Regions from separate parts of the Homo sapiens genome. Here region 1 is linked to region 2. Evidence: fine-mapped expression QTL. A gene starts in region 2. The other region holds a variant in brackets. All regions are shown on one strand. Distances are from middle to middle.

Region 1 (10,499 bases), 180 kb before region 2:
TTGAAGTCTCTGGGGACCCCTTCCCACCCGGCTGTCTCAATGAGATTAAATAAGAAAGGAACAATGCAAAACATTTAGAAGGTTGTATATGAGAATATCTTGTTCAAATTGGGTCACTGAAGGATGTCTGCCCTCTCAGTTCCTTGGCCTGCCATTGTCACTGATCTTCACACTTCAGCCTTCCACCTTCAGAGTTACATCTGGGCCCTGATTTTTCATCACTTTCAACAGTCTGACCTCCAAACTCTCTGACCACAATGTCTCCTCCCACGATTTGGCTATGCAACCATCTTACTTGTTTGTTCTCATCATGATCTCTTGTCCATGGGCTCACATACTTTTCCTTTAACCATCTTCCGTCTTTGCTTCCTCCATAACCAGCTTAGATTGCATAGTCCGTCTTTTGAATCATTCTCTTATCAGTTTCTTAAACCTCCTTACAACATCCCTCCAGGAAAACCATAACTGTCCATAAATCCAACTCTGTTCTTCCCTGTGCCTTCACCAATAACTGAGTCCTGCGGGAGGCATATGTCAACAACAAGGCAAATCCATCCTCTATCAGTTCAACCTCAACTGGATTCTCATTCACTGCCCAGCAATCAAAATTTGTGTCCCTCTCATTAGGTTACTTTCCCTTTCCAATGCCTATTTTAAATCTTCCTTCTTCTTCAATCTTCAGTTCTTCTTTTTAGCCCCCATTTCCAGAAGATGACCAATAAGGTCTCCTTCATAAACTCGATCGAAGCCATTAGACAGCAACAACTCTACCTAAAACGGCAACCATGCCAGCGTCTTAGCAGATCTTTTTATCCTACCTTCCAGTTACAATGGCTCTCTCCTATCCAAGGCCCACCATCCACTTGTATTCTTCATTCATTCTTCTTCTTAGGACATTTTACTACCAAATACTCCCTGTTTCTCTTCTACTTTAGCTTTCACCTCTTCCTTTCTAATGATTCCATTATCATTTAAACACGTCTTACACATTAAAAATAAAACAAAACAAAAAGACACCACTTTGACCCCATTTTCTTCCCTTCATAGCCAAATTTCTTTAAAGAGTTGTCTGGAATTCCTATCTCCAGTCTTAAATTCCATCCCACTGACTCCAGGCTGCTGTCTGCCTTCAGCTCTCCTCTGAAATAACCCTCTCAGAGGATGTCAGTAACTTCCTTCCATGTGGCTAAGAGTAGTGGACACTTAGGAGTTTTCATCTTATTTGACCCCTTAACAGCATTTGATATAATTGGCCACTTCCTCCTTCTCTGCCACTGGCTTCTTCTACCGTACTCCCCTGCTTTTCCTCGTATCCATTCATTCTCATCTTCTCAATCTTCATCCATGGCTCTGTCTGCTTCCCCCAAACAAAAATTGTTAGAGTTCATCAGAACAAATTCCCCTTCTGTTTTCATTCTGTTCCCCCTCCCTAGATGACATCTTTCACTACCTGAATTCAAATGGCATTCATATGGAACCATCTTCTAAATTTCTATCTCCACCCCAGAAACCTCTTTGGAATGGAACACTTCATATCCAACACTTCTTAGCCATCTCCACTTGGAAGTCTCACAGCCACCTCAAGCTTAATAGATTCCAAATGAAATTTTTTATTTTTTCTATATAAACATGAATCTCTTTCCAAGTATTTTCCTGTATCCATAATAGATGTTATCACTTAGTTGTTCAAGACGGAAATCTGCGTGCCTCACACTCACTCCCACCCTCATCTCCCCTATGCTGCATCCAACTGATTATCATATTCTTGTGATTCAGCTGCCTACACATATTTCAAAGTCATTCACTTCTCTTTATTGCTATTGTCATTCACCCCAGTAAAGCCTACTTCCCACTGTCCCTGCACCCTGTCTTGTCCCTGTCTGATGAACTATTCATACTGTATCTAGAGTAATTGCCTAAATTGTGAAATTCACTAATAAGATACAATGTTTTTGAGAAACAGGAAGAAATAAGACAGGATCAATCTTCTGAGATTCAAGAGAAAGGAAGATTCTGTTCTGTATGAGGGAAACAGGGAAGTTTGGAGGGGCTCATGCCTTGGGAGTTTTGTATCATTCCTTTTCTCCAGCATCGTTCAATATCCTAGGCATAACACAGAGGAAATAGATTATAGGACTGTGATTCATTTGAACAGCCATATGGTCTGTGCTGGGCTGGAAGGGAAGTGAAAACAGGAGGCTACTGATCACTGGGAGAATTAGGAAGTGAGGCCTCAACAATGCAGGAAAACAGTTTAGGTGGGACCAAAGCATAGGAAAAGGGTGAAAATAAGACATTCTCATCTGAGAATGAGATATTTGGAGTTTAAGATTTTACAGATGAAGTTCCTTTGAGTATTGACAAGATCCATGGTATGACCATGGGAATGTAGGTCAGTATAAGATTGTTATGCAGTTTTTTGTTTGTTTGTTTGTTTAGACAAGTCTCGCTCTTTTGCCCAGGCTGGAGTGAAGTGGTGTCATCTTGGCTCACTGCAACCTCCGTCCCCTGGGGTTCAAGTGATTCTCCTGCCTCAGCCTCCTGAGTAGCTGGGATTACAGGCGTGTGGCACCACACCCAGCTAATTTTTGTATTTTTAGTAGAGACGGGGTTTTGCCATGTTGGCCAGGCTGATCTCTAATTCCTGACCTCAGGTGATCCACCCGTCTCGGCCTCCAAAAGTGCTTGGATTACAGGCATGAGCCACCGTGCCCGGCCTGTTATGCAGTTTTATACATACACACAGATGTATGCATGCATGCATACACACTTTTATATTCTCATTCTCCCTCTCTCACTGTAGGAAGAGGAAATAATGTAAAAAATAACGAGCAGGAAGAACAGAGTAGCCACTCTCTTTGGTTATCCTAACACATGGCTTACATGTCTTTGTATAGCTATTCACACTTAAATCCCTTTCCTAGCTCACAACTTTTAACTCATGATCTATGGTTCAGAATTTTTATTGATCTCTTTGTTTATACCTCACTTTACTGTATAGACAGTTAAAATTCTTTTCAAAAATTTTGGATATATTTCGAGGGTACAAGTGCAAATTTCTTACATGCATATATTGCACAGTGGTGAAGTCTGGGCTTTTAATGCACCCACCACCCATATAGTGAACACTGCACCCAATAGGTAATTTTTTAACCCTCATTCCCCCTCCCCATTTCCCATCTTTTGGGGTCTCCAATGTCTATTATTCCATGTGTACCCCTTGTTTAGCTCTCACTAATAAGTGAGAACATGCAGTTTTGACTTTCTGTTTCTGAGTGATTTCACTTAGGATAAGGGCCTCCAGTTCCATTTATGTTGCTGCAAAAGACATGATTCATTCTTTTTTATGACTGAGTAGGCATTCTATGGCATATATGTACCACATTTTAAAAATCCAATACTCTATGAATGGGCACTTAGGTTGATTCCATATCTTTGCTATTGTGAATAGTGCCGCAATACACATACAAGTGCAGGTATGTTTTTGACACCGTGATTTCTTTCCCTTTAGGTATATATCCAGTAGGGGGATTGCTGGATCAAATGGCTGTTTACAGACAGTCTTTAAAGCAGATACAACTTTATGAAATTTAGACGATTTCTTCTAGATACATACTTCGCACCATTCACCATTTTTCATACTCACATGGCTTTTACTGACCTCCTCGTAGCCCACATCCACCATGGTAACCTTTGTTATCCTGGAGTATGGAGTGCCAACTGTAAGCCTGGAGATTTCACTCTTCCACATCACTACCAAATAATTGAATGTGAGCGCTGCCAGCCTGGATGCCAATGGATCCTGATATTCATATGTCTCTATGCCCAATGGGCCTGTTTTTTCCTCACTTCTGCTTTCTGATCTTTAAATTATTTCTTATATCAAAACAAAACGTTCCAACTAATTTCTTGGTAAATTATATAATCAAGGGATTGACTTGATCCTTTGATTACATAATTGTATAACCCCTCGATTATAGGATTTTAAAGTTATTAATTTCCCTTTTACCTGAGTTATTTTCTCACTCCTTCTCCCAAGTAGATGATTCATAAGGGTTCATGAGTCCCTGTCTTGACTCCATTGTTATACAAAATATAGCAGAAAAACTCTCCCAACAGTCAATCACTTTAATAGACAATAATTATTACTTTATGAATTTTGTTATTACAGCCAGGTCATCACAATGAATAATGCCAGTTACCTGTAGGTGTTTCTGGGCCCTGGATTAGAGGACCTAATCCTATACTAAGAGCTTGATTTCCATACGCAAATGAGATTTAGAAAAAAATCTAGTCTCCAATTGCCCTATATTTGTTGTTTAGGTAATAGGAGGAGAATAGATTGCTAGCTACAGCAACTCCACCTAATATCTACCTCTCATGGCCACCCGCCTCGCTTCTGCTCCAGTCCTTGGCCTCCCCGCTCATAGTTCTGGTCATTGTTGCTTTTTAAATCTGGAAAGAAGTGAAATAAAGTCCTAGTCCATAGCTCAACTACCTGAGAAGGAATCTAGATGCCTTATACTGTTCACTCCTTCCTAGAAAAATCACTATCAAACCATAGTCAAGGGTATGGGTTTTGAGGTCACAGCATCTTGGATCTGTACTCTGACTCTCCCAGTCACTGGGCACATCACTGAACCTCTTAACCCAACCTTCTCATATGTGTAAAGGGATCACATACCTCTGGGGGTCACTGCAAAGATGAATTAAACATACATCTTTAATAGATGTTTGAACACCTGTATTCACAGTCTCTTCCTTTCTTTACGTCCTTTGATCTTTCCCCTTCCTATTTTGTCTGATGATTCCCCCAGCCTTCTGCAAACCCAAGTCTGCAGTGTGTGGGAGGGAAGAGTGGAGGAGCACAGGTCGGGGGAATTTACACTGGCAAGGGCAGAGGACTCCTTATGGGACAGAAAAGAGCAACAGAAATAGAAGGAATGAAAAAGGGGGAAAGAGAACTTCACCCTGTTTTGAAGAGTTTGAGGGGTTTGGAGTAGAAAGATTATTTTAAAGGCAACTCTGGGGTGAGAGAGATATACTATGAAAGATTAAGGACTTAAAGCTTAATAGTGCATGATTGTACTCTCTATCTTCGAGAGAGTAAAACTAGGATTCAAATTACTTTCAGGCCGGGTGGATGCCTGTAATCCCAGTGCATTGGGAGGCCAAGGCAGGAGGATGGCTTGAAGCCAGAAGTTCAAGACCATCTTGGGCAACATAGTGAGACCCTGTCTCTTAAAAAAAAAAAAAAAAAAAAAAAAAAAGTTAACCAGACATAGGTGTGGTCACGTGCGCCTGTAGTCTAGGTAGCTGGGTGGGTCTGAGAGGCTGAGACGGGAGGATGGCTTGAGCCCAGCTCTTCAAGGCTGCAGTGAGCTATGATTGCGCCATTGCTGTGACCTCAAAACCCATACCCTTGACTATGGTTTGATAGTGATTTTTCTAGGAAGGAGTGATCAGCACAATGCATCTAGATTTAAGAGACCTTATCTCTTTAAAAAAAAAAAAAAGGAAAGAAAAAAATACTTTCAAGTGCTATTGGGTTGCTAGGCTTTTGTTTCTCTGACTGCATTTTTAGATCAGGACTGGACCAAGAGGCAGCCTGGCTTCATATGGGTTATGCATTTGAATCGCATAGTCCAGTGCCCAATACAAAGCAAGCGTTCCATGAATGCTACTCACGCTCATGGTGATTCTTTTGCCAGTTCAGAAGTCTGGTTCTGGTGTTATTTCCTGGAGGCCTGGCCTGGTTAGTTTGGAAGGAAGAGGGAATTTTGGCCCAGAGGTCAGTCTAGCTTCTGTCAGCACCTGCTCCAGGCCCTGCCTTGTCGCTGGCTGACCTCCATGGACACCAATGGCCCAGGCTCCACATGCCACTGGCTGCTGCCACCCTGTACGGCTCTCTTGGAAAGGAAACCCTTGACCTGATGCCTGTCAAAATCTAGCCTGCGTTTCGCCCATCCTCCCTCAGACCTGGTCATTGTTCTGCAGTCTCTGCTTGGGCTTTCTAAGAGTCGGTTGTATTTATTCCCAAACTCTTGATCCAGTTACATAATTTCCCACTGCATAAACCAATGGACTGT[G/C]AGTGTCAAGCATATGAGTCATAATGTTTGGCATACAGAAAGCTGCTGTGTGTTGGCTATTCCCGGAGTCAACCAGATAAGGGTTGCTGGAAACAGCATCTCCTGTGTGTTCACAAGACTTACGTTAGAAGAAAACTTTTAATCTAAGCAGGTACCCTTTTTATGACTCTATTCTATAAATTAAATTTTTCTTTACCTGAGTAACTTCTAGTCCTGAGTGTACCAAGAGGATTACTCTTTGTTGGGGAATTTATTTTGCCTTAAGTTTCTCACATTAACCACAAGGCTTCATTCTATATCCCATATGCTGGTTGGTTAAATTTTAGCTTAACAATTAAACCAATGAAGCCCAGCAACTTTTTTTTTTTTTTTTTTTTTTTTGATGGAGTTTTCCTCCTGTTGCCCAGGCTAGAGTGTAATGGTGTGATCTCAGCTCACTGCAACCTCTGACTCCCGGATTCAAGCCATTCTCCTGCCTCAGCCTCTGAGTAGCTAAGATTACAGGCATGCGCCACCACACCGGCTAATTTTGCATTTTTAGTAGAGACAGGGTTTTACCATGTTGGTCAGGCTGGTTTCAAATTCCTGATCTTAAGTGATCTGCCCACCTCAGCCTCCCAAATTGCTGGGATTATAGGCGTGAGCCACCGTGCCCAGCCAGCATTCCACTATTTTGAAGAACTATGATTTATTCTTTACTGCTGAATTTAGCCTGCTCTGTCCATTTTACTTAGCTAAGTACAGTCTCAATCAAGGGTGTAGAATTGGAAGTCTAGAATTTTCTGTGTGCTCCGGGTATGAATATTTGAGAAGTACCCCCAAGACCCTCTTTGAGTTTTGCCGCTAACTAACTGTATTGTTTTTCCCGAGTTTTACTTTATTTTCAATAACTGTTACTCATTGCTTTGTTATACACCCAGAGGGGCTAGGCATCTAAAGGTGTTTTACAAATTGAATAAGGTTATGTTACTGTCCCAAACCACCATCTGAAAAATATGTAGCATATATGTGTCTTGGTTTTGAATTGGGCTCAGGAATATGTTTTCATTTTCCTACGAGCCTCACAAGCAAACTAAGGCACTAATTTCTTTAAACTAAGGCACTAGTTTCTTTAAAACTAGCAAATACTCGCACAACAGAAAGTTGGTACAAAATCCTGAATTTGATGTGGAGCTAATATAAATGAAAGTGCAGTTCGTGTTTTCAAATCACTAACACACGGAGCAAGGTGAGGGCAGTTTCTAATCTCTTTGTCATAATTACATAAAAGGAATAGTTTTCTCAGGAAAGTGAACTACAAATTTGGTACAAGTGATTATGAAATTGGTATACACTTTTTTGGTATCTATTTTTTTATCTATAGACTTTCTTTCCAACTATAAAGACATGTTTTAATATTCTAAGGGGCTTACCTTTTTGAAGTCCTTGTTCCTTTCAAACTTTTCTCTTTTTAATCCTCCGCCTCCCCTAAAACACACCTAAAGACTTTAAATTTATTGGGAGTTTCATATATACACTGAAGGAAAACTAGCCCCCACGCTTTTGAAAACTTAACTGCACAGAGCACTTTAAAACATCATTCAAACAAATAACTTTTTACAACACTGGAGTGAACAAGAACGTGGGGACAGGCACAAGGACTGGTTTGTAGATTGGGTTAACACCAATGCTTCCTCTGGTGTAAAAGGCTTTGATCTTAAGGTTCATGCCCTCGGCATGCAGCTGTGACCCACAGTTCACATCTCCTGGAAGGTGTGACAAAGGTAGCATGGGAATTGGGTCTGCATTCAATTTTTACATTTCCATTTAACAGTTTATGATTTTATATAATATTTCAGTTGTATGAAAAGTATGTACCAATTTGAGTGATAACAGATTTTCTTGTGGTTTGACTTGACATTGTTTGGGTGAACACAGCCTAGAATCAGGAGTTTTAATTAGAGCTGGATGAGCTCTGGAATGCCTACCAGGCTTAGGGGTTTTCCCAAAAGATCTTAAGTGCCCAGAGCTGATTTGAACTGGGAACCCTTCTGACATTCTCCTGTTTACAAGGCATTGCAGTGACGTTGTAGCACTCATGCACAACCCAGTAACAAGAAATGCCTTTGGACTGTGTCCGCCTATGGAATGGCTTCCCAACTATTTGAGTTGGCTGGGGTTCTGCTGCTCTTCCAACAGAGGCTCCACTGCAGTTTCTTGCACATCCAGACTCTGAGCCTCGGTAATTCATTTCACATGACAGCTCACCAAAGCCGGGGGCCTCAAAACATATTTAACATTTGCTGGCTGGAGCAAAACCTTTGGTTCTATTTGGTCAGTGAAGGGAGTCAAGGGGCTTGCCTTTATTGGTGTCTGTCCTCCTCAAGGTGATAGGTGTGTGTGTGATCTGAGGTCCATGTCTGCAAAACTTGGATCTGCTTATTGGATCCAGTGCTCTTTCTGTGTGGACATTCCTAAGTTTATCCTCTGGGTTTTCTTCCATGTTTCTTCACGAACTTTCCACTAGAGAGCTTTAATGCCCAAACAGACAGACAGGAGACTCGCACATTGGGTCTATAGTATTGGGAGTAGAAATGGGATATATAATAGAGAGAGCCCTATTGACTTTCTTCTAAAAATGCTAGAAATGGAGAATGACTTGATGACTGGCTGGGTCAGGGAATTGTGGGACATTGCTCAGCACCCTATATCAGAGGAAAAGGAAGTGATAAGTTTCTGCCTGCCCAGGGCAGAAGCTCATGGTGTCATTTGGAATGGCCTCAAGTTGCTCTTGGATTTTTATTCCTATTAAATATAAAGAATATTGGCACACATAGGGGCTTCCTACATAAGAATGCTAAAGAAATAATAGGATAAGGATGGATTAAAAAAATCTATGTGGATAAGATTGTTTAGAATTGCATTTTGCTATTGGTTAGATCAAAGTGTAGATGGCAATTCTCTGGAAAAAAATATTCCCATAGATTATGCAGTAAAGTGGCTATGAGTTTATGCTTTGAGTTCAGACAGTCTGAATTTGAATCCTGACTTCACATCTTCCTAACTGTATGTGACCTGAGGTAACTCTCTCTAAACCTTAGTTTTCTTATCAGTAAAATTAGGATTTTTAATAGTACTTTCCTAATAAGATAGATATGGGATTAAATGGGAAACGTAATGTAAAGTGCTCATGCTATGTGCCCCTAAATTATAGTTGTTATTATTATTACTCTTGTTATATTGACTTGGAGACTGTTGTTGACCAGAGGCATTAATATTTGCTGTTAGCTCATTTTCTCTGCTACAGTTCCTGTTGGACTGATCCAAATAAGCAATTTTAATCTAGTTACATTGAAAATTAATACATTAACATAAGGTTCATGGTGTCCCGTTAGATAGTCAAAAACAAAAGTCAAGGCATTAGAACTAACACATCTCTATGTTCATAAAAATAGTTCAGGCCGGGCGCGGTGGCTCACGCCTGTAATCCCAGCACTTTGGGAGGCCGAGGCGGGCGGATCACGAGGTCAGGAGATCGAGACCATCCTGGCTAACACGGTGAAACCCCGTCTCTACTAAAAATACAAAAAATTAGCCGGGCGAGGTGGCGGGCGCCTGTAGTCCCAGCTACTCGGGAGGCTGAGGCAGGAGAATGGCGTGAACCCCAGGGGGCGGAGCCTGCAGTGAGCCGAGATTGCGCCACTGCACTCCAGCCTGGGCGACAGCGAGACTCCGTCTCAAAAAAAAAAAAAAAAAAAAAAAAAAAAATAGTTCAATAAGTTCTTATTCAAATTACTGTTTTCTCTTGTATCAGTCTCTAGTCTAGGAGAACATCAAATCCTGCTATGGATTGAATTTTGTCCCCTTCTAAACTCATGCTGAAACTTAATTGACATTGTAACAGTATTAAGAAGTGGGGCCTTTAAGAAGTGAATAAGACCTGAGGGCTCTGCCCTTATGAACGGATTAATGCTGTTACAGGGGGGTTGGGCTCCTAATAAATGGGTAAGTTTGGCCCCCATCTGCTCTCTGTCTCATGTACTTGCTTCCACCTACTGCCCTTCTGCCATGGAATGACCCTTGACAGATGCTGGTGCCATGCTCTTGAACTTCCCAGCCTCTAGAACTGTGAGAAATAATTTTTTTTCCTCATAAATTACCCAGTCTATATTCTGTTATAGCAGCAGAAAATGGACTAAAACCCCACAGGTAAGCAAAGACATGAATTAAATTATCTAGAACGATCCATAGATCTCTTTATTTGAAACAATCCATAGGTTTCCTCCAGACTGTAAGAAAATTGCCCTCTTGATATAAACTCTGAATATAGTGCCTGCATTTAACTTGGGTTCTCTCCCATTGGCATGAGATTGAAAATCTGTTGGCTGTCTGTATTCTGTTGTTAGATCCATTTTCTGAGAGACTATTTGG
Region 2 (10,499 bases):
TAAAATACAAAAAATTAGCCAGGCGTGGTGGCGGATGCCTATATTCCGAGCTACTTAGGAGGCTGAGGCAGGAGAATTGCTTGAACCAGAGAGGTGGAACTTGCAGTGAACCAAGATTACACCACTGCACTCCAGCCTGGGCAAAAGAGCGAGACTCTGTCTCCAGAAAAAAAAATAAATAAATAAATATGACTTCAAACAACTCAGAGAGAAGGCTGACCAATAGAAGAATTAAAGAGCTTTTGAAATACAGTTTAAGAATGGTTTTGCTGCAGTTCTAAAAATGAAATTCTGACTTTATTCTCACAAATAATCCCAAAGGGAGAAAAGGGAAAAGGCATCTACAGGAAGCTTTGGCTAGCTAGGGAACTGTTTTTATATGATCAGACTTTAAAAGTTCATATCCAGAACAAAGAAGAACAAGGTGGTAGAAAATAGAATGCCTAAGGTGCAAAATAAACTGAGGCTGGCAAATATATATATATATATGTGTGTGTGTGTGTGTGTGTGTGTGTGTGTGTGTATTTGTTAGCTTACTTATTGTATAATTATAATGCTTAATGAACTAATACATTCTTATACAATTATATTTAATTTGTTCACATAATTTATGCGTATGTGTGTGTATATATATATTTTAGCCATGTTTGAATGAGATAGATTGAGAGTTCACTGTTTGAGACAGAAGTAAATTTTTTTTCATCTCAGATTTGAAAGGCTCTAATCTGAGGACACCAGTAATTCTTAAGAATTCTCTCCCTTATATTGGGCAAAATCAAAATTCATCATTCATCACCCCTCCCCGCCGCCTCCTGCTTCTAGCCCAGGAATTGATCAATTTAAATACCAGAAGAGATTTCATCTACATCAGAGGTCACGAAACCAATGGCTCCTGGCATCTGGCAGGTAATACGGAAGTACCCCATACATTTATAGAAATAAAATTCAGAAGAATATGGATGACCTGGTGTGGTGGCTCATGCCTGTAACCCTAGCATTGTAGAAGGCTGAGGCAGGAGGATCACTTGAGGCCAGGAATTTGAGACCACCCTGGGCAACATAGTGAGACCTCATCTGTAAAAAGTATATATATGTGTATATATATCTCCACATATGGGTGGAAAGGCCAGGCATAAAGCAGCAATGGATGTTGGCAGTGTAGTGACCTGGATAACGGATGCCCTGTTAAAAGAAATTTACCCACAAAAATTAAAATTTTGTTTAATTTGAAAAATTTAAAACTTAGAAAGATACTGTGTTGGCCAAGCTGAATATCCTCAGACTTCACCTGTGTGTCTCTGGTTTTCATTCCCTGGTTTAGAGGGCTTCTGAGGTTCAGAGAGGTTAGGTGACTTGCCCCCAAACCTAGAACCAATTGATAATACTATGTACAACGAAGATATCAAATCCTAGAAGCAAGTAACTGGCTTACCTGACAACATAACCTGATTCAAATGCTGAGGGCGCCAAACTTGTGTTCCATTCAAGTGGTTCCACAAAAACAAATTTTGCCTCTTGAGGATGTTTATAGATAAAACTCTCCACAAACACAATAATTTCTTTCAATATCGCTTCATTTAGAGGGGTGATTTCGAGGATTCCAGTTCCATGTCCGGCAGCAGTCCACTGCGTCAATTTCCTCAGAGCCACACCCATGGGATCCACCGTGCTCAGACCTGAGCTTAGCACACGCACTACATCAGAGCAGAAAGAGAAAGAGACAACAGCGTCCACCTTTTCCTTGGAACATTTTTCATTCTCAAGACTTTAAACTAGTACTCCCCATCCCACATTCTGCTTATTAATCTTGGAAGATTCTTTTAACATTATCTAATTGCTCTTCAGTTCAATGAAGTAGTAAACCAGCACTAGATAAAACTGACTAGTATTTAAGAAATTTCCGGTATTTGCCCTGAAATTAATAACTTCTTTCTAATTTCCCTAGGGCCTAAGAGAGAGGATTCAAACAGATAGGCATAAAACCCAAATAGAAAACTCCAAGAGTGGAAAAAAAAGGAAGTGGAAGAGGTTTATATTAAGGGCTTTTGTTCACAGCTCTGTTGGGAGCCAGCAGTTTCAGGGACAAACATTCCTTTCAGCCAGGACACACATTGTTTAGAATTACACTATTAAACTGAATACTGTTATCCCGACTTTCTTACAGTGACAATATCTGCATCATCACAATGATGACTGAAGAACATGATTCTGGTAGCTCTGGTTTCCCCAAGTGCATTCTGAGTTAAAAAAGAAATAGAATAAGAACAGTATTGTGAAATATAATTTTTTTTCTAAAAATTGATACAGGACACATTGATCCTATTACCAGAATATCTGGACAATCCAAATACTATTTTCCCTGCCTGTATATCCTGCCCAGATGACATTTTACTGTAATTCACAACCTTCTTAAGAGTTAATGTGAGAGATGTAGGAATAAGTGAGACTCTTTCAGCCTTTTTATCTAAATTAGTTATCAGAAGAGTCTAGCAGTAAAATTTAAAACCAATTCAAGTGAGACAAATTTCACATTGGCTAAATAGAAATTAGTCTGTAAAAGAAGATCTTTTAAAAAGTAACAAAATCTGTAACGTTAAATAAGAGCCAAGTTAGAAAGCACGTTCTGACTTCATAATGAACATTTAATGCTTTTTTGGCAGATAATCTATACTTGTTTCTTTTCTCTTTTGTATAGCACTTATTGATAAAATCTTTCTTCCAGAATATTAGAAGAATGGTTATACGGTTAAATATAGAATAAAATTGGCTTTTTACTCCCATCATTATTAAAAAGGCTTAAAGTACAAAGATTAGACTTGGAGATTTTACATTCTGTACTGTATTAAATCTTTGAACTATCTATTAAATTCAATCACAGGAGATCACTGGATGGCAACAGGGCAGTACTTCCTGCTGATAAAGAGTATAGAAATATTATAGAGATGTCTAGTTATCAACATGATAGGAAAGGGGGCATTATCGGCCTTTAGTGTTGAGGACCGACAATGTAAAATATCCTGTGCAGGATAGTACCTCAGAAGGAAGAATTCTGCTGTAACCTCCAGGCATCTAGTAAGTGAAAAACTTCAGATAAGCACTACCTGAGCCTAGAATTTTTCTGCACTTTGCAAAAATTGCAGAGTATTTTGTCACAGTTTTATTACACCCTGAATTTTCCAGAATTGTAGCTACCATAAACGAAAAGAAGGTTGTACATATTTTGTTTTACATGGAATTTTACCAAGAGCTCAGCATTTTGGAAAATGACACCATTGATGGCAATGTTATTTGAGAAATTTAAGTTGCAATGGCACATCTGTATCAGTCTGCATTTGGGGCTGCTGTGTTCACAGTCATTCTGTGTAAGGCTGGACATCTGACTACTTCCCTATATATTCTAGTGTAGTGGTACTTGAGCGTTTACATGCCAATCTTTTCTTACAATTATTTTCTTTCATTTTACAGTTAGCACACTATCAATATTTAAAACTATATTAAATATGTAAGATTATAATCTATGATATTGATTTCAGGATAGCAAAGCAGCCTTACAACATATATGCTATAAAAACCAAGTACTGGATCAGATAGGGTGGAGAACAACTGATCCAGACATATATACCAAAGTGGTCATGAAATAAAGTGCAGAAATTAGTGCACAAATTTGTTCTGGGTGTTTGTTTTAGTATTCTAGCATTTTGTTTCTATTGCTAACCGATGAGAAATGCTTTAGATTTAAACACATAAACATGTTCTGATGTGTATGTGTGAGACTCTTGAATTTCCCATTGTTGTGTAAAATAAGTGCAAATCAGTGTAAAATAGTGTGAAATAAGTGCAAATAGCTTTATCTTATACAGAAAGGCTTAGGTGAAAGTTCTGTCTGTCTTTAATCTTAAGTATAACATTTGTTTTGGTAATCTTATAAAGATTGCTTCTTGCACATTTTTAAAGAAAAAATGCGAAATTAAATAGATTATGTAACGCTATGGTAGTCAACATACCATATAGTAACTTCTTGAAGGACCCTTAACACAGAATTAAGAAATGCAAAATCGTTATTTTCGTCAAGATAAATTTTGACAGAAATGTAACATTTGAATCTATTCAAATTGTATTTCCAAGTCTAGTGAACCGTAGCAATGCACAAGTTTTATTCAAGAAGGTTGGTGAGTTTAAGAAAACCTCAGGGTGGCCTATGACAATCCAGAAGGCAAGATCAATGTTATTAGAAAATAAATAAATAAATAAATGGTGTTCAAAAATGGTCGGCATAACTCAAAACTAAGATTTTAAAATCAAGACCAGTTGCTCCCCGGTTTCTGCCCATTGCCAAGCTCTTTTGGCTTAAGAACCATAGTTAAAATGAATCCATGTAAATACACAGCACACACCTTTGAAGTAAAGAAAGTAAGTTTAAAGATTAAAAGGAAAAAAGTTTTGGTTACGTGTTTACATAAACTGGGATGTTTACATAAACTGGGAATCACTTAGCACTCATTTTTCTCTTTATCCAATAGATACCACAGATTGTTTTTCTTTCTAAAGGTCAATTTCAAGCTTCCAGCATCATTAGTGAAATGAAACCCATTCGGTAATCACATCGTTAACACTTAAACAGAAGCACAACCGAATTCTTTAGGGGGCTACGGAAAGGCAGCCATCAGCTCTGAGATCTATGAAATGTGGTTGGTAACATCCACGGGGAGTCCGCGCATACACTGCTTTCTGAGAATGCAGAAGTTACTCAGTAAGACCGACAGAAAATCGAACTTTTAGACATGACATGAACAGGGCCCTAAGTAAAACCAAAGCTAAGCCTAGTGTGGGATGACGGCCCCCACCAGACTCGTTACAAGAAGGGGGCGTCAGAGCTGAGACCCTAAGTTTCCAGGAATGGATTCGGTAAGGGGACGAGGAGGGAAGGGACGGCGAAAACCACGCTGGGAGCGGGAGGCAGAGCTGCAAAGGGCGGAGGAGAAAGACGGGCTGGGGGAAGGAGAGGCAGGGAAGCGGCGGGAGAAGTGGAGAGCGGATCCGGGAGGTGATGGGGCCGAGGTAGTGCAGAGAGGGGCGCAGGGACTGAGGAGCAGACGGTCCCCAACCTAGGGCCGAGGCAGGGTCTCGCGGGGAGGAAGGAGTGAGATGGGGCTGGGAGAGAGAAGGGAAGGGGGCGGGTCTTGGTCCCCGGGAGGGAAAGGGGAGCAGGCGAGAGCGGCAGCGGCGGGGCCAGAGAGCCGCCTCTGTTTCCCGATCCACGCGGGCGGCTGCAGAACCCCTGCGGGGGTGAGCGTGGAGACCCCCAGCCGCACTCACCTGCAGCACCCTGCCCCCCGCAGTCGGCGCCCGCCTGTTGCTAGGACGCGGGTCAACACTGCGCGCCCTGCGGCCGCGCACGCCGGCGCCCTTGTGGGAGGCCTACAGGGCCCGTGCCCTCCCCCGGGCGCCGCCGCCGCCGCCTTCCGCTCCCAGCCTCACCCGGCCGCGACCGCAGCCCAGTCCGTTACCCTGGTCTCGGGACCTCCGCGCATCCAAGATTCCCGCGGACCCGTTGCACCGTATGCCCGCGCCAGAGACGCTCTGCGCCCGCGCTGGGTTCCACCCGCCCCGGCCACCTGCTGCTTTCCGCTCGGCCCCTCCCGGGAAACACTTTTATTCAACTTTGCATCTCCCTTTCTCAAACACTTTTATGCAACTCCCGAGTGTGCACCCTAACTCACTCCACGCGGTGGGAAAGGTTGACTTTGACAGAGGTCGTGAGCAGTTGCGGGGTCGGCGGCAAGTTAGCAGAAAACTTAAAATGGAGCAGAAAGGAAGCAGAAAATATTCCTTAGAAACCCCTTTTTACATTTTTCCATAGGCTTCCAGACAAGTGCGTTGTATGTACCTGAAATCTTCACTGAGTACCCCCAAATAGCATAGGGCTTCTCCTAGGATATTTGAGGCTTACATGTTTCTCTCCAAAAAAACAAATATGGTAGAATACTCTGATACTCACCGGGAAAGCAGAAAGCGCTCTTCAATAGGGCAGAGGATCGGAGTGAAATGAAAACATGTCCCCCATCTCTTTTTTTAAATGGCCTTTACCTTTGTCCATTAAGATGGTTTTGACCCCACCTCTAGACACCCTACCAGCAAGAGCCCCAACTGGAACACCAGTGAGGGATAAAGGAGTGGGAATATTGAGGTGGGGGGGGATGGGGAAGAATGCACTATCTTGGGGTGGGGGGACACGGTGTTTAAGGACCAATGCCGGAGCACTTAGGATGATGGGGTGTTTAGGAATTAAAACTGGATTCTTTTCCGGATGCCAAAGAGGCAAATGTGGAATGATGTTAGGATATCACCTGTCATAATATTATACGGATTCAGCTCAAAGCAGAACCTTTCTGCAAACACGTAGGGATATGAGGTATAGATATTTGTCCTTTGTTTTGGGTTTTTTGGAGGGTGGGGGACGAAGTCTGGCTCTATCACCCAGGCTGGAGTGCAGTGGCACGATCTCGGCTCACCGCAACCTCTGCCTCCCATCTCGGCTCACCGCAACCTCTGCCTCCCGGGTTCAAGAGATCCTCCCCCCTCAGCTTCCTGAGTAGCTGGGATTACAAGAATGCGCCGCCATGCCCGGCTAATTTTTGTACTTTTAGTAGAGACGAAGTTTCACCATGTTGGCCAGGTGGGTCTTGAACTCCTGACCTCAAGTGATCCACCCACCTCGGCCTCCCAAAGTGCTAGGATTACAGGCATGAGCCACCATGCCTGGCCTGTTTTGGGTTCTTTTCTTCTCTTTTTGAAAGTGCGAAAGTTGTTAGGAATGGAATAGTTTCACCTAAAGGAGATACTACCTGCAGAGAAGCTTAGACTTGCAACCAGTGAGAAAGGGGCTTATGCTAATAGGTATACAGAGAAGCCCTTTTAAAAATGGGTGGATTACAGTCTGAGACAACAGCATCACACCTGTGGCGGTAATGCAGGTCACAACCTGGTGAGGAGCAGAGGGCATCCTTCGGAAGGATCCTGGAGTAGTCCCAGTCCTGGAAGCAAGGAAGCTTCTGTGGGTACTTTAGTTCCTCTGCACATTTTAATCAGCTGTATGACATAAGGGAGCATTACTGGGTCCAATGTGGATGCCAGCCAGAGATCTTCCAAGTTCAGGACATTTCACCTTGGTTTGCAAAGCTGGAAAAAGCCAGAACCCACCAAGATCTGAGCAACTATGTCGTTGTTTGCCAAATTCATGCCAAGTTGCTTAATCTGATGCCAAAATGTGAATTTATTTTACCGGATATTTTCCAAGCAAAAATAACTTAATAATATTTAAATCTGAAGAAGTCCCAGTCGCCTCTTTCCAATTTTTCCTTGTCGTGATGAAACACTACCTGGGCCCAGTCACTCCCTGAAGGATTTATCATGACTTGTTTTTTTTTTTTCTTTTTTTTTTTTTTGAGACGAGGTCTCATTCTGTCACCCAGGCTGGAGTGCAGAGTGCAGTGACATAATCATAAGCATAGCTCACTGCAGCCTCTGATTCCTGGGCTCAAGTGATCCTCCAGCCATGGCCTCCGAAAGCACTGGGATTACAGCCATGAACCACTGTGCCTGGCCATAACTTGTCTTTGCCTTGTTGCCCATCTGCTACCCCTACAAGGTAAGCTTTATGAAAATAGGGAGCTTTTCTGCCTCCTTCAAGTCTGTACTCCTAAGATCTAGAAGGATGACTGGCACGTAGAAGGAGCTAAATTCATGAATCGCCTAGTCAAAGATGCCTTGCTTCCTGACACTCTTCACCAAGCACCAGAAAGGCAAGGCCCACATTTTCTTAGGGTTAATAGAACCAGCCTGAGGATTCTAAGTAGCCGTGATCTTGGAAAGAGCCTTCATCACTGAGGGCACACCCGGGGTTTGCTGTACCAGAGGCCTTTACCAGCCCTGCCCATGGCTAGAGTGCAAGCACATGGTGCAGCGCTGTCCACTGAAACTTTAGAGAAAATCTGCCACAGGCTCCTGGGAAAAACTTGATAGTTTTTGGTCCACCTCCGCAACATTACGTCATCTACAGCAGGGACCCCACCCACACGCCACACCTTCTGTCAGATCAGCAGTGGCATTAGGTTCTCATAGAAGCATGAACCCTATTGTGAACTGTGCATTCGAAGGATCTAGGTTACAAGCTCCTAATGGGAATCTAATGCCTGATGATCTGTCCCTGTCACTCATCCCCCCCAGATGAGACCGTCTAGTTGCAGGAAAACAAGCTCAGGGCTCCCACGGATTCCACGTTATGGTGAGCTGTATAACTATTTCATTATATATTACAATGTAATAATAGTAGAGATACAGTGCACGAGAAATGTAATGAGCTTGAATCATCCTGAAACCATCCCCTCCCCCACACCCTATCCATGGAAAAATTGTTGGCCATGACACTGGTCCCTGGTGCCAAAAATGTTGGGGACTGCCGATCTACAGGGATTCTTATGAAACCATCCACCCTGGCTTGGGCAAATCTGTTCCTCTCATGTATCAGAGAGTTCAGACACAGATTGCACACATTAATTTGCTAGGGCTTTTGTAACAAGGTATCACAGACTGGGGCGGCTTAAATACCAGAAATGTCTTATCTCACAGTGCTGGAGGCTAGAAGTCCAAGATCAAGGTGTTGGCAGGATTGATCCCTTCTGAGAGCTATGGGGAATGAATCGATTCCAGGCTTTTCTCCTCAGCTTGTAGATGGTTGTTTTCACATTCATATGATGTTATCCCTGTGTGCTTGTCTCTGTACACAAATTTCTGAATTTGAGACAGGACCTAGGCTAGAGTGCAATAGTGCAATCACGGCTCACTGTAGCCTCGACCTCCCAGACTCAAGTGATCCTCCTGCCTCATCCTCCCAAGTAGTTGAGACTACAGGCATGCACCACCATACTCAGCTAATTTTTGTGGGCTTTTTTTTTTTTTTTTTGTAGAGATGGGGTCTCGCCATGTTCCCCAGGCTGGTCTTGAACTCCTGGGTTCAAGTGATCTGCCTGCCTCAGCCTCCCAGAGTGCTGGGATTATAGGTGTGAGACACTCCTCTTGGCTTATTTCCTCTTTTTTTTATGAACACCAGTCATATTGGATCAGGACTCACCCTCATGAACTCATTTTAACTTGATTACTTCTATAGAAACCCTATGTTCAGTACGGTTGCACTCTGAGACACTAGAGGTTAGGACTTCAGCATACGATTTTAGGGGGACACAATGTCACACATAGCATTATGTAAAGATGTGATCAGCAGGCTTCCAGCGCCCATTCATCTGTGTCAGAGTGAAGCCGACTAAGAATTTATAGGCCATAACCAGGGAGAAAGTAAGAGGCAAGGTTGGTTTAAGCATCCAGTACCTCAATCAGGAAAGGACTAAGACAGATGAAATAAACCTCCTGAGGTTTGCAGGGAATTACAGTCATTTATATTTTGTCGTAATGGGGGTAAGTCTCATTATAGGGCGGAATTGCCTCTCTGTGGAATTTTTTAGGAGTTTTCAACAGAAATTCCCATGAGAGAAAATTGCATGAAGTCTTACGAAGTCCTAAAAACCAAATTCACCAGATTCTACCCTCTCTCATAGATAAAGACAAAAAGTCAGAGAAGTGCAGCCTCAGCTGCCTCCCTTTGCCCTCTGATATTTCTCAGTGATGCATTGTGGACCAAGGCCCACGGCCTGGAAATGAAATGGCTCCTTCTCCTTAGATTCTAATCTCCTAGACATTCATTTACTCAATAAATGCTTTTTGGATGCCATTTTGTGCCAGGCACTCCATTGGCAGAACTCGATTATCCAATTCAAGTCCTAGCCAAAAAAGGAGCCTACTAAACTCAACTCAGAATTCCTGGACTAGAAGGAGAGCCACTGGCATGAAGCACAGTAGCAAAGGAGAGAAAGGAGAAGAGACTGAATCGGTGGGAAGGACTGCATGAGGTGGAACATTTAAGCCATGATAACAATTGAAATATTCTTCCAAGAATAAATGAAAGTTACTGGAAGATTTTTAGCAGGGAGTGACATGCTCCGATTTCTCTTGTTAAGAAGCTGTTCTGATTACACAGTGGAAGTAAACTAGAGAAATGCATGAGTAGAAAGAAAGAGACTATTAATAAGACACCTGGCCTCAGGTTCCCCTGAGAAATAGACTCTGAGATAGAGAAGGGCATGTAAGAAATGTATTGAGAAGTGCCCTCAGGAGAGTGAAGGCAAGGAGATTAGACCGAGAGAGAAGCTGAACTGCCATGCAGCCACAACCATCCCACAGAGAGCCCTGAAGCTGGGATGGCCCAGCAGTTTTCCCATATTGAGGCAAAGGGGCTGGACCTTTAGATCTTCTCATCAACTGATCATTATCAGCCAGTCCCTGGGTGCAGGCTGTCCCCAGGAATAGGGCATAACCTTACTCTTTCATTTGAGGGCTATCATCTGCCCATAATCCCCAGCAGCTGAGGGCAGGAGTGCTTTGGTCTT

Alleles and levels. Alleles are on the strand shown, and positions count from the first base shown. SD is a standard deviation of normalised expression in the study named.
As copies of G replace C in region 1, the expression in thyroid of the gene that starts at base 5,593 in region 2 goes up (moderate effect, 0.46 SD a copy in GTEx).

The links. PIP is the estimated chance that this variant, and not a neighbour inherited with it, causes the effect.
Region 1: its variant is fine-mapped to the expression of ODAD2 in thyroid (GTEx, PIP above 0.99).

What each region holds. Positions count from the first base shown.
Region 1 is chr10:27,814,332-27,824,830 of GRCh38, forward strand. The region is part of intron 19 of ODAD2 (outer dynein arm docking complex subunit 2); the gene reads right to left. Among named protein-coding and RNA genes, the nearest start is that of MKX, 74 kb to the left of the region's middle. The variant G/C (reference allele first, on the strand shown) is at 6,090.
Region 2 is chr10:27,993,487-28,003,985 of GRCh38, forward strand. It overlaps ODAD2 (outer dynein arm docking complex subunit 2), which reads right to left and starts at 5,593. Exons shown (of 20, transcript NM_018076.5): 1 at 5,508-5,593; 2 at 1,433-1,694. The coding sequence starts at 1,656. It overlaps LOC112268060 (a long non-coding RNA gene), which reads left to right. Exons shown (of 3, transcript XR_002957065.1): 2 at 823-906; 3 at 1,582-1,665. RefSeq lists an enhancer at 998-2,197.